2 separate regions of the Homo sapiens genome follow, and region 2 is linked to region 1. Evidence: fine-mapped expression QTL. A gene starts in region 1. The other region holds a variant in brackets. All regions are shown on one strand. Distances are between the middles of the regions.

Region 1 (5,368 bases):
GAGAGAGGGGAGATGGTTTGGAACGGTAACCTAGGTCTACCTTTGATTATTGTAAAAGACCTGTACAAATAGAGAAATGTAATTTTTCCCGTCTATAGGCAATGGAGAGCCATTGCCTATAGTCATGCTGTGTCTTTTATGTTTACAGTTTTGCTCCTTAAGAAGCTGTTTTTCTTGTCTTTACGTGCAGATTCTTTCCCAATAATTAGGAAACACTGCCATCATGTGGCTCAATGGATGCATGCTCCAAACTTAAGTTGCTGAATGTTCTATCATATTGTTTAATAATTAAACCAAAGAACACATCTCTGAATTCAAAGAGCTGAGGTAAAGAATGTCAACCTATCAAAAAAGGACATTTTCTATAAAGTTTTTCAAAAAATCAATACCTGGCTTCAATGACCTGATTTTTTACTTTGCTTTTAAAATTGTAACCTGGCCAGGCATGGTAGACTGTAATCCCAGCACTTTGGGAGTCCGAGGTGGAAGGATTGCTTAAGTCCAGGAGCTTGAGACCAGCCTGTGCAACATGCTGTGACCCCCTCTCTACAAAAAAAATGAACAAATTTAGCCAGGCATGGTGGTGTGGAGCCTGTAGTCCTCGCTACTCGGGAGGCTGAGGTGGAGTATTGCTTGAGCCTGGGAGGTGGAGGCTGCAGTGAGCCATAATGGCAGTACTACACTTCAGCCTGGACAAGACCCTGTCTCTATAAATAAATACACACACACATACATACATACATACATACATACATACATACATACATACATAATAAAAAATAAAATTCTAACCTAAGTGTTTAGAGATTCTGATCTCAAGAATCCTTTCTATTCCCAGTGACCCCTTATTTTAGACTCATAAGTTTTCTGTCCCTGCAATGGTTCCACCCTTTCCAGGGCAGTTTGCTTCAAGCTGTATCCAGGATCTTTCCCTTAACTGTGCCAGATTTTGTTTCAGTCCTGGGATTGTTCTCCTTGTAGGTCCACAGTTGGACAGACCTAAATTCAAATATCCATACCATTTTTTCCCTGAGAGCTTCAGTTACTGCATCTATAAAAGAGGCACGACATCGGCCAGGCGCGTTGGCTCACTCCTGTAATCCCAGCACTTTGGGAGGCCGAGGTGGGCGGATCATCTGAGGTCAGGAGTTCCAGACCAGCCTGGCCAACATGGCGAAACCCCATCTCTACTAAAAAATACAAAAATTAGCTGGGAGTGGTGGCAGGCGCCCGTAATCCCAGCTACTCAGGAGGCTGAGGCAGGAGAATGGCTTGAACTTAGGAGGCAGAGGTTGCAATGAGCCGAGATCTCGCCACTGTACTCCAGCCTGGGCTACAGAGTGAAACTCCATCTAAAAAAAAAAAAAAAGAAAAGCGACACCTTCTTCATAGGGTTATCATAAGATGAAGTGATAGCATGTGTAAACGGTGCCTGGTACACTGCAGGTCTTCACATTGAGGGAGTCGTGTTTCATCCCTCTGTCCTTGAGGACCTGTTATTTTATTTTATTTATTTTATTTTTGTTTATTTATTTATTTTTGAGACAGAGTCTTTCTCTGTCACCCAGGCTGGAGTGCAGTGGCATGATCTTGGCTCACTGCAACTTCTGCCTCCCGGGTTCAAGCGATTCCCCGCCTCAGCCTCCCAAGTAGCTGGGACTACAGGCGCCCGCCACCACACCCGGCTAATTTTTTTTGTATTTTTAGTAGATATGGTGTTTCGCCATGTTGGTCAGGCTGGCCTCGAACTCCTGACGTCAGGTGATTCACCCACATCGGCCTCCCAAAGTGCTGGGATTACAGGCTTGCACCGCGCCCGGCCTGGGGGTCTGTTATTCTAAGCACAGAGCTGGCACTTGGTGGAGGTCTGTGATCTGATTGATATCCGAGATTTACCTGGTCCTCGGCAACGTTCCTGAGAACAAAACTACTCATCCCCTCAGGTTTTGGGGACCATCCCTATTTCCACGCGTTGGCGGTGGACCCTGGGCTCGCTGGGGTTTGCAATCCACGTGTCTCCCCTGCGCGCAGCAGGCGGCAGGTGCATGCGTGTGAGTAGGGCAGGGCCCCTCTGCATTCATTTCTCGCCGCTCCCCCCTCCCCCGGGCCTGGGGGTTGTGTGTGTACATAATTCAATCCCCGTGGGACTGGCGTCTGGCCTCACGCGCGGCTTGCCGGATTGGCTGTTTCAGCTCGCCCCCGCCCTCCGTACACCCCGCGTCCCAGGTGGCTCAGGCCCCTGTGGTGATCTCTGTTTACCGAGAGAGCCCGTCCAAGTTGGGCTCCATCGCTGCCCTCGCTCCCCTTCGGGGCCCCCGCCCGCCTGGGAAGCAGAGAGAAAGCCGGGCCCAGCCCTTCCTCACCCTTCCCCTCCCCGCACCGCCCGGAGAGGTCGGGTAAGGGGGAAGGAGTGTGCGTGGGACGGGGAACCTCGGGCCTGGGGATCTGGCTGTCCCCGTCCCCGTACCTCGCGCGGACCCGGGAGTTCCAGCCCTAGGCCAGGCTCCGGCTCCCTCCGCCCCGCGCCATCGCGCTCGGAGTGACGGGCCCACCCCGGGCGAGCAGCCAGAGGCTGGATCTCAGGGATGCCAGCTCCCCAGCGGAAGCACAGGCGTGGAGGCTTCTCTCACAGATGTTTCCCCACCCCGCAGACGGCGATGACCCCCCAGCCCGCCGGACCCCCGGATGGGGGCTGGGGCTGGGTGGTGGCGGCCGCAGCCTTCGCGATAAACGGGCTGTCCTACGGGCTGCTGCGCTCGCTGGGCCTTGCCTTCCCTGACCTTGCCGAGCACTTTGACCGAAGCGCCCAGGACACTGCGTGGATCAGCGCCCTGGCCCTGGCCGTGCAGCAGGCAGCCAGTGAGGGGGGCCCTGAGGCGGGAGACAGGAACGGGGAGGAGGAGCCGTGAGTGGAGGGATGGGAGACCCACCTGATTACCCGACAACCTGAGAAAGGGCAACCGGCTCTAGAAAAGAGTGCATCTTGAGGTCAAGGAGAAGAACCATTAGTTCGAGGGAGGCAAACAGCCAATGAGAAGTGTTGGAGAGAGTTTGGGGGCCCGGGGGCGTGTCTTCCGTTGACTCCGCCCCCTTTCAGGCCCCGTGGGCAGCGCCCTGAGCACGCGCTGGGGGGCCCGCCCCGTGGTGATGGTTGGGGGCGTCCTCGCCTCGCTGGGCTTCGTCTTCTCGGCTTTCGCCAGCGATCTGCTGCATCTCTACCTCGGCCTGGGCCTCCTCGCTGGTGAGGGAAGTGGGATGCCCGGGTCATTCAGGGTGAAGGAGGTGACAGGAGCTTGTTGGGATCTGGGGTAGCGAACGAGGCGGGGGCCTGGTGCGGAGAGCCGGGCTGGGAATGCTGGGGCGGGCGTCCCCAGTGCCGGCCCCCATCCCCTCCTATTCATTCGCAGGCTTTGGTTGGGCCCTGGTGTTCGCCCCCGCCCTAGGCACCCTCTCGCGTTACTTCTCCCGCCGTCGAGTCTTGGCGGTGGGGCTGGCGCTCACCGGCAACGGGGCCTCCTCGCTGCTCCTGGCGCCCGCCTTGCAGCTTCTTCTCGATACTTTCGGCTGGCGGGGCGCTCTGCTCCTCCTCGGCGCGATCACCCTCCACCTCACCCCCTGTGGCGCCCTGCTGCTACCCCTGGTCCTTCCTGGAGACCCCCCAGCCCCACCGCGTAGTCCCCTAGCTGCCCTCGGCCTGAGTCTGTTCACACGCCGGGCCTTCTCAATCTTTGCTCTAGGCACAGCCCTGGTTGGGGGCGGGTACTTCGTTCCTTACGTGCACTTGGCTCCCCACGCTTTAGACCGGGGCCTGGGGGGATACGGAGCAGCGCTGGTGGTGGCCGTGGCTGCGATGGGGGATGCGGGCGCCCGGCTGGTCTGCGGGTGGCTGGCAGACCAAGGCTGGGTGCCCCTCCCGCGGCTGCTGGCCGTATTCGGGGCTCTGACTGGGCTGGGGCTGTGGGTGGTGGGGCTGGTGCCCGTGGTGGGCGGCGAAGAGAGCTGGGGGGGTCCCCTGCTGGCCGCGGCTGTGGCCTATGGGCTGAGCGCGGGGAGTTACGCCCCGCTGGTTTTCGGTGTACTCCCCGGGCTGGTGGGCGTCGGAGGTGTGGTGCAGGCCACAGGGCTGGTGATGATGCTGATGAGCCTCGGGGGGCTCCTGGGCCCTCCCCTGTCAGGTAAGGACCTGAGCTCACAGATCTGCCTACAACTATCCTCTGCCCCTGGGGTTCGAGGCTTCTAAATGCCCTTACCCATCTCCTCAGGCTTCCTAAGGGATGAGACAGGAGACTTCACCGCCTCTTTCCTCCTGTCTGGTTCTTTGATCCTCTCCGGCAGCTTCATCTACATAGGGTTGCCCAGGGCGCTGCCCTCCTGTGGTCCAGCCTCCCCTCCAGCCACGCCTCCCCCAGAGACGGGGGAGCTGCTTCCCGCTCCCCAGGCAGTCTTGCTGTCCCCAGGAGGCCCTGGCTCCACTCTGGACACCACTTGTTGATTATTTTCTTGTTTGAGCCCCTCCCCCAATAAAGAATTTTTATCGGGTTTTCCTGAAACCTCCAACTGTTCACCAATCTAGGACCCTGAAAATATTCTACATAAGACAGCCAGAAAGGCTGGTTCAAAGGAACAGGATCCCAGAAGGCCCTGGGTATGAAGAAGGGTGACTGTCCAGCCAATCCATTTCTCTTTGCCCAAGTCCTGGCCGTAACAGGGAATCTTTGCGAAGTTGTCTGGCAGCCAGTTTCAGTGTGTTGCTGGGGTTGGGGGCGGGTTGCTAGTGGGTGCTATCTGCCCCATCTTCATGTCCCTTACCCTAGTTCCCAGACCTCCCAGACTTAACTCTTCCCTGCATTTCAATCTCCTTCTATGGGCCTGAGGGAAATACAAGAATCCTAGGCCCAGACTTCAGCTCTATCAAAGCTATTCACACATCTATACCCTGTGTCCTCAGCATTCTCTCAATTTCTTTTCTTTCCTTCTTTTTTTTTTTTTTTTTTTTTTTGAGACAGAGTCTCCCTCTGTTGCCCAGGCTGGAGTGCAGTGGCGCGATCTTGGCTCACAGCAACCTCCGCCTCCTGGGTTCAAGCAGTTCTCCTGCCTCAGCCTTCCCAGTAGCTGCAACTACAGGCACACGCCAACACACCCGGCTAATTTTTGTATTTTTAGGAGAGACGGGGTTTCACCATCTTGGCCAGGCTGGTCTCAAACTCCCGACCTCGTGATCCACCCGCCTCGGCCTCCCAAAGTGTTGGGATTACAGACGTGAGCCACCATGCCCAGCCCTCAATTTCTTTTCTAAGCCACAGGGATAATGGGGAAGAGGGAGGTATGTGGTGGTAGCCTGGAGAGCAGATTCCAGGGTTAAAATGCC
Region 2 (5,368 bases), 88 kb before region 1:
CTCGCTGAGAACTACCACTCCATAAAAAACCTTACACTCATTCTCCAAGCCCACATGTGATCCCATTCTTCCAGTACACCAAGGCAGGAACCCCAGGACACAGAAAGCCCTCTGTGCTTGTGATGAGGCAGAAGGTCTAATAGAGCTGATGAACACAAGCCGCCTACAGACGGCAAAACTGAAAGAGCCCCCGTCACACACGCCCACTGGGGCTTCAGGAGCTGTAAGCATTCACCCCCAGATGCTGCCGTGGGGTTGGAGCCCCACAAGCTGCCCGTCAGCAGGCTCCCCCTAGAGGTTTGAGCAGTGGGATTCTGAAAAAACGAGCTATTCCCGCTGTCACACGCCCTGCGACGGGGACAAGGGAACCTTTCCTGTTTCCGTTCCTGTTTCCAGTCCCCAGTGCCCTTGTGGTATTTCAAAAGCATGCATGTCGGCCGCGCACGGTGGCTCACGCCTGTAATCCTAGCACTTTGGGAGGCCAAGGCGGGCGGATTGCCTGAGCTCAGGAGTTGGAGACCAGCCTGGGCAACACGGTGAAACATCGTCTCTACTAAAATACAAAAAAAAAAAAAAAAAAAAAAAAAAAATTAGCCAGGCGTGGCGGCGAGCGCCTGTAGTCCCAGCGACTCGGGAGGCTGAGACAGGAGAATCGCTTGAACCTGGGAGGTGGAGGTTGCAGTGAGCCGAGATCGCGCCACTGCACTCCAGCCTGGCAACAGAGCCAGACTCCGTCTCCAAAAATAAAAATAAAAATAAAAATAATAAATAAATAAATAAATAAAATAGAAAGCATGCATGTCCTTTCAATGTAGAGTATCCACACCACAAAAAATCCTGGGTTACATGGATTTTATAAACCAGGCAGGGGGAACGAGGCCTCTAGCAACAAGACCACAACAAACATTGCAGATGCAGATAAATGCAGAACACGGTAGATTAGGGAGGCGTGATCCACTCCAGGGGCTTTCCGGGACTGATAGAACACTGCTTTACAAAACAAAGAGAAGCAGAGTTTAGAAACCTGCAGGGTGTCACTGCTCGCAGGAAACACCAGTCCTTATGAGCTGTTGCAAAAGCTGGGGACTTTCTGGTGTTTGAGCTGCTGATTTCATGGTTTTAAATGGGGCTTCTTGTACCTCACCCTGCCTTTCCAGTGCACCCAGTGGAGACGGAGGGACAGTGGCCCTGGGGGCCAATGACTTGAGAAGGAGACACAGATCTGAGGCCAGCATAGCCAGGGGTCAGGGGTCAGGGACCAGCTGGGCAGGAGCAGGGATGTGTCTTCAGGACAATGGGGCTCATGGGATTGGGGTCAATGTGTGTGAGTGTGTGTTCCTGCCTGGATTGTTTATTCAGCTTCTGCCCTGGCATCTCACCTTAGGGTCTAACAGGGACCTCAAACACAAACACCGTCTATCCCAAATTGAGCTCTTTTTAGTTCCTCTTTTTCTTTTCTTTTCTTTCTTTCTTTCTTTCTTTTTTTTTTTTTTTTTTGAGATGGAGTTTTGCTCTTGTTGCCCAGGCTAGAGTGCAATAACGTGATCTCAGCTCACTGCAACCTCCGCCTCCTGGGTTCAAGGGATTCTCCTGCCTCAGCCTCCCGAGTAACTGGGATTACGGGCACGTGCCACCACGCCCGGCTAATTTTATATTTTTAGTAGAGATGGAGTTTCACCATGTTGGCCAGGCTGGTCTCGAACTCCTGACCTCAAGTGATCTGCCTCCCTGGGCCTCCCAAAGTGCCGGGATTACAGGCATGACCCACCGCGCCCGGCCCTTTCAGTTCCTCTTTCTACATTGCGCGTTTAACCCATTCCTGCCCCCTCTTCCCGCTCAGTTAACCCTGCTGTCACTTTCTCAGCAGCATACAAAGCTTCTTCAGGAAGCCTTCCTTTCCTCGCCCACAGGCCCTCCCCAGCCAGTGCTGAGTTGATGGTTCTTCCTCCAAGATTCACTATCTACCCTTTTGTTTTTTGAGACGGAGACTTCGCTCTTGGCGCCCAGGCTGGAGTGCAGTGGTACAATCTTGGCTCACTGCAACCTCCGCCTCCCGGGTTCAAGCGATTCTCCTGCCTCAGCCTCCTGTGTAGCTGTGATTACAGGCGCCTGCCACCATGCCCAGCTAATTTTTTTTTTTTTTTGTATTTTTAGTAGAGATGGGGTTTCTCCATGTTGGCCAGGCTGGTCTTGAACTCCTGACCTCAGAGGATCCACCCACCTCAGCCTCCCAAAGTGCTGGGGTTACAGGCGTGAGCCACCGCACCCTGACATGATCTGCTTTTAATCTGACATCTTCTCACTGTTGTCACAGCCACCTCCAGTCCCAAACACCATCGTCATCTCTCTTTTGGGACTTTGGCAACAACATCCCCTGCCAACTCTCACCCCTAAAGGTTCATCCTCATACAGCAGCCTGAAGGTGACTTTAAAAAATGTAATCAGGCTATGTGTCGCCTTGTTTAACTCATCAATAATTCCCTATTTCACAGAGAAGAAAACTCTTCCGGCCTTCCATGCCCTGGAGGTCCCCGTGATCCAGCCCCTGCCTCCCTCTCTGGCCCCATCCTCTGCCTCCTCTGCTTTCACTCACTGGCCTGCTCCCTCTTCCCCAGCACATACCTGCTGTGTAATATGTGAGTGAATGAGCCAGAGACAGGCAGAGAGAGAGCCTGTGGAGGAGGGAAC[A/G]GCCGAAGTACGGAATGAGGCAGATAAACACAGGAAGACAGAGACCAGGGGAAGTGGAAACAGATGGCAGAGAGGCCAGGGAATTCTCTCGTGATTTGGGGAACCCCACTTTCTCCAGGGTCCCACCCCTTGTCTTTGTTAGAATTGGGCCTGGGACAGGCTGCTAGTGGGGTTGGGGCTGATGGAGGTGTGGGAGCCGGGAGCTGGGTTCAGGACTGAGTTCTGGACCAGGCTGGAGATGGGCCGGGGTAGGAACTGGGAATTCGTCCCTTCCCAGGAGTTGGCTCTCCTGGGCTCCGCATTTTTGTGATTGGGGGTGGGGAGGGGGGCTGTCTAGGAGGGTTGGTGTTTCCCCTTTCTCTCACATCTTTTTTGCTTCCTGCTTTTGAAGTTCCCCAAATTGTTGGTGTCTCCAAATTCCCAACCAGGAACTGATGCTTCTGCTCCCATCCGCCAGCCCGAGCTGCAGGAAGCTGGGGCCTTCCTCTGGGGCTCAGGTGCCAGGTTCTCCAGCCCGCCCATATTGACTCCTGTCATTCCCCAGGGGAGTAAATATAAGTCAAGCACCTGAAGCTCAGGGGGAGGGAAGCAGAGCTTTTTCTGCAGCAACTGGAGGAAGTTAAAATGAGTAAAGGAATTGATTTTCTTTTCTTTTTTCTTTTTTTTTTTTTTGAGATGGAGTCTTGCTCTGTTGCCAGGCTGGAGTGCAGTGGCACAATCTCGGCTCACTGCAACCTCCGCCTCCCGGGTTCAAGCGACTCTCCTGCCTCAGCCTCCCGAGTAGCTAGGATTACAAGCGCGCATCACCACACCCAGCTAATTTTTGTATTTTTAGTAGAGACGGGGTTTCACCACATTGGCCAGGATGGTCTTGATCTCCTGACCTCGTGATCCACCCACCTTGGCATCTCAAAGTGTTGGGATTACAGGCGTGAGCCACAGTGCCCAGCCAGTAATTGATTTTCTTTGAGTACCTACCATGAGAGTTAAGGAATTGATTTTCACTGAGCACCTACAATGTGAGGGCTTTGCTTATACAAAAAAAAAAAAAAAAAAAAAAAAGGCTCAGTGTTAGACACTTTGCCTTACATTAACCTGTTTAATACCAACAAGAACCGAGTGAGGCAGGTATTATTATACCCATTTCCAGCTGAAGAAACTGAATATCAGAAACCTTGAGTCACTTATCCAAGGTTCCCTTATGGCTGGTAAGTGGCAGAACCAGAATTCAAGATCACGTTTGATTCTGAAGGCCCTGCCTGGCTTCCCACAGGGAGTCACTTTTACATGCGTCTGACTCTTTTTTTTTTCTGGGTTGGTGCTGGGCTTGGACATTGAGTGGTGAGTAAGGTAGTTCCTGAGGTCAGGGAGCTGGCAGTCCAGACAGGGAGAGGGGCACAAAGCAGGAGCTGAGGCCATCAGTGCCTTCATGCAACACAGATTTATGGGGACAGACCAAGCACAGGTACCTTTCTAGGTGCTGGGGATTTAGGACTGAGTGAGCCTAAGTCTCCATGCCTGGCTGTATGTGCAGAAAGATAATAACCGAAATACATAACATTCATTATCAAATGGCGATGAGTGCTGTGGAGAAAAACAGAGCAAGGAGGAAAGAGGAGAGGGGTGTGGTGGGGGTGCACAGTCTCCTGATGTGGGGACACGGGTAGCCGGGGCATGAAGCCCACCCTCTTAGCCTCTGGGCCTCTCAGACTGGTGCCGGGGGCCTGTCCATGTTTGCCCTGTCCACTTGCCTGGTGAAAGGGGGGTCCGGGGTGGCGCTGCTGCAGGTGGTCTTGGCATGGGTGGGGCGCTGTCTCCGGTGGCCTGCCTTGGACCCTGCCATTTGGCATGTGGACCCTAAAGTCAAGGAGAGCTTTTCATGTTCATGCTGGTATTTGTGTACTGAATGAACTGTTTATCATTTTGTTTCCTTAAAGAAATTGTCAGTTTGTTAAAGTACATTTTAAATCTAATTTTTCCTTAAACTTCTTGTAAGTTCAGCTTATAAAAGTAGTTATTCTTTTTTTTTTCGAGACAGAGTCTCACTCTGTCACCCAGGCTGGAGTGCAATGGCATAACCTCAGCTCACTGCAACCTCCGCCTCCTGGGTTCAAGCGATTCTCCTGCCTCAGCCTTCAGAGTAGCTGGGACTACAGGCAAGTGCCACCACGCCAGGCTAACTTTTTGTATTTTTATTAGAGACTGGGTTTCACCATGTTGTCCAGGCTGGTCTCGAACTCCTGACCTCAGGGGATCCACCCATCTCGGCCTCCCAAAGTGCTGGGATTACAGGTGTGAGGCACCGTGCCTGGCCGTAATTATTCTTTTAATAAATTGTGCTAAATAAGAGCCACCGACTTTACCTTCTCACTGATTATTGCATAATAATGAAAGTCAAAGACACGAAACTCTCTTAAATAATCAGCTTCATTCACAATGCAGTTAAATGCCTAGAAACATTTTTAAACTGAGTTTACACATTTGGTGTATTTTAAGGATTTGATTTTAACAATCAAAAACTAAGTAAATAAGGCAAATTAATATTCATAAGGAATCTCAAGGACTCTTCAACATTCCAACATTGTTTACAAACCTAATCAAATTATTTCATACATTTCAACTGAAAAAGAAAGCACGAGTCTAAAATCAAGTACTTCATTTTGTATTTTAATTTGCTATC

The links. PIP is the estimated chance that this variant, and not a neighbour inherited with it, causes the effect. A credible set is the group of variants that fine-mapping cannot tell apart.
Region 2: its variant is the best candidate, but not a certain one, in a credible set for the expression of SLC16A11 in whole blood (INTERVAL, PIP 0.65).

Annotation. Positions count from the first base shown.
Region 1 is chr17:7,040,803-7,046,170 of GRCh38, reverse strand. SLC16A11 (solute carrier family 16 member 11) reads left to right here and starts at 2,079. Exons shown (of 5, transcript NM_001370549.1): 1 at 2,079-2,396; 2 at 2,652-2,859; 3 at 3,098-3,241; 4 at 3,408-4,175; 5 at 4,263-4,550. The coding sequence starts at 2,658. The coding sequence ends at 4,492. LOC124903909 (a long non-coding RNA gene) reads right to left here and starts at 3,104. Exons shown (of 2, transcript XR_007065598.1): 1 at 2,931-3,104. RefSeq lists silencers at 2,473-2,602, 2,673-2,732, 3,633-4,022, 4,133-4,202.
Region 2 is chr17:7,128,583-7,133,950 of GRCh38, reverse strand. It overlaps LOC105371512 (a long non-coding RNA gene), which reads right to left and starts at 2,704. Exons shown (of 3, transcript XR_934191.3): 1 at 2,623-2,704. RefSeq lists enhancers at 216-325, 2,456-2,993. The variant A/G (reference allele first, on the strand shown) is at 2,689.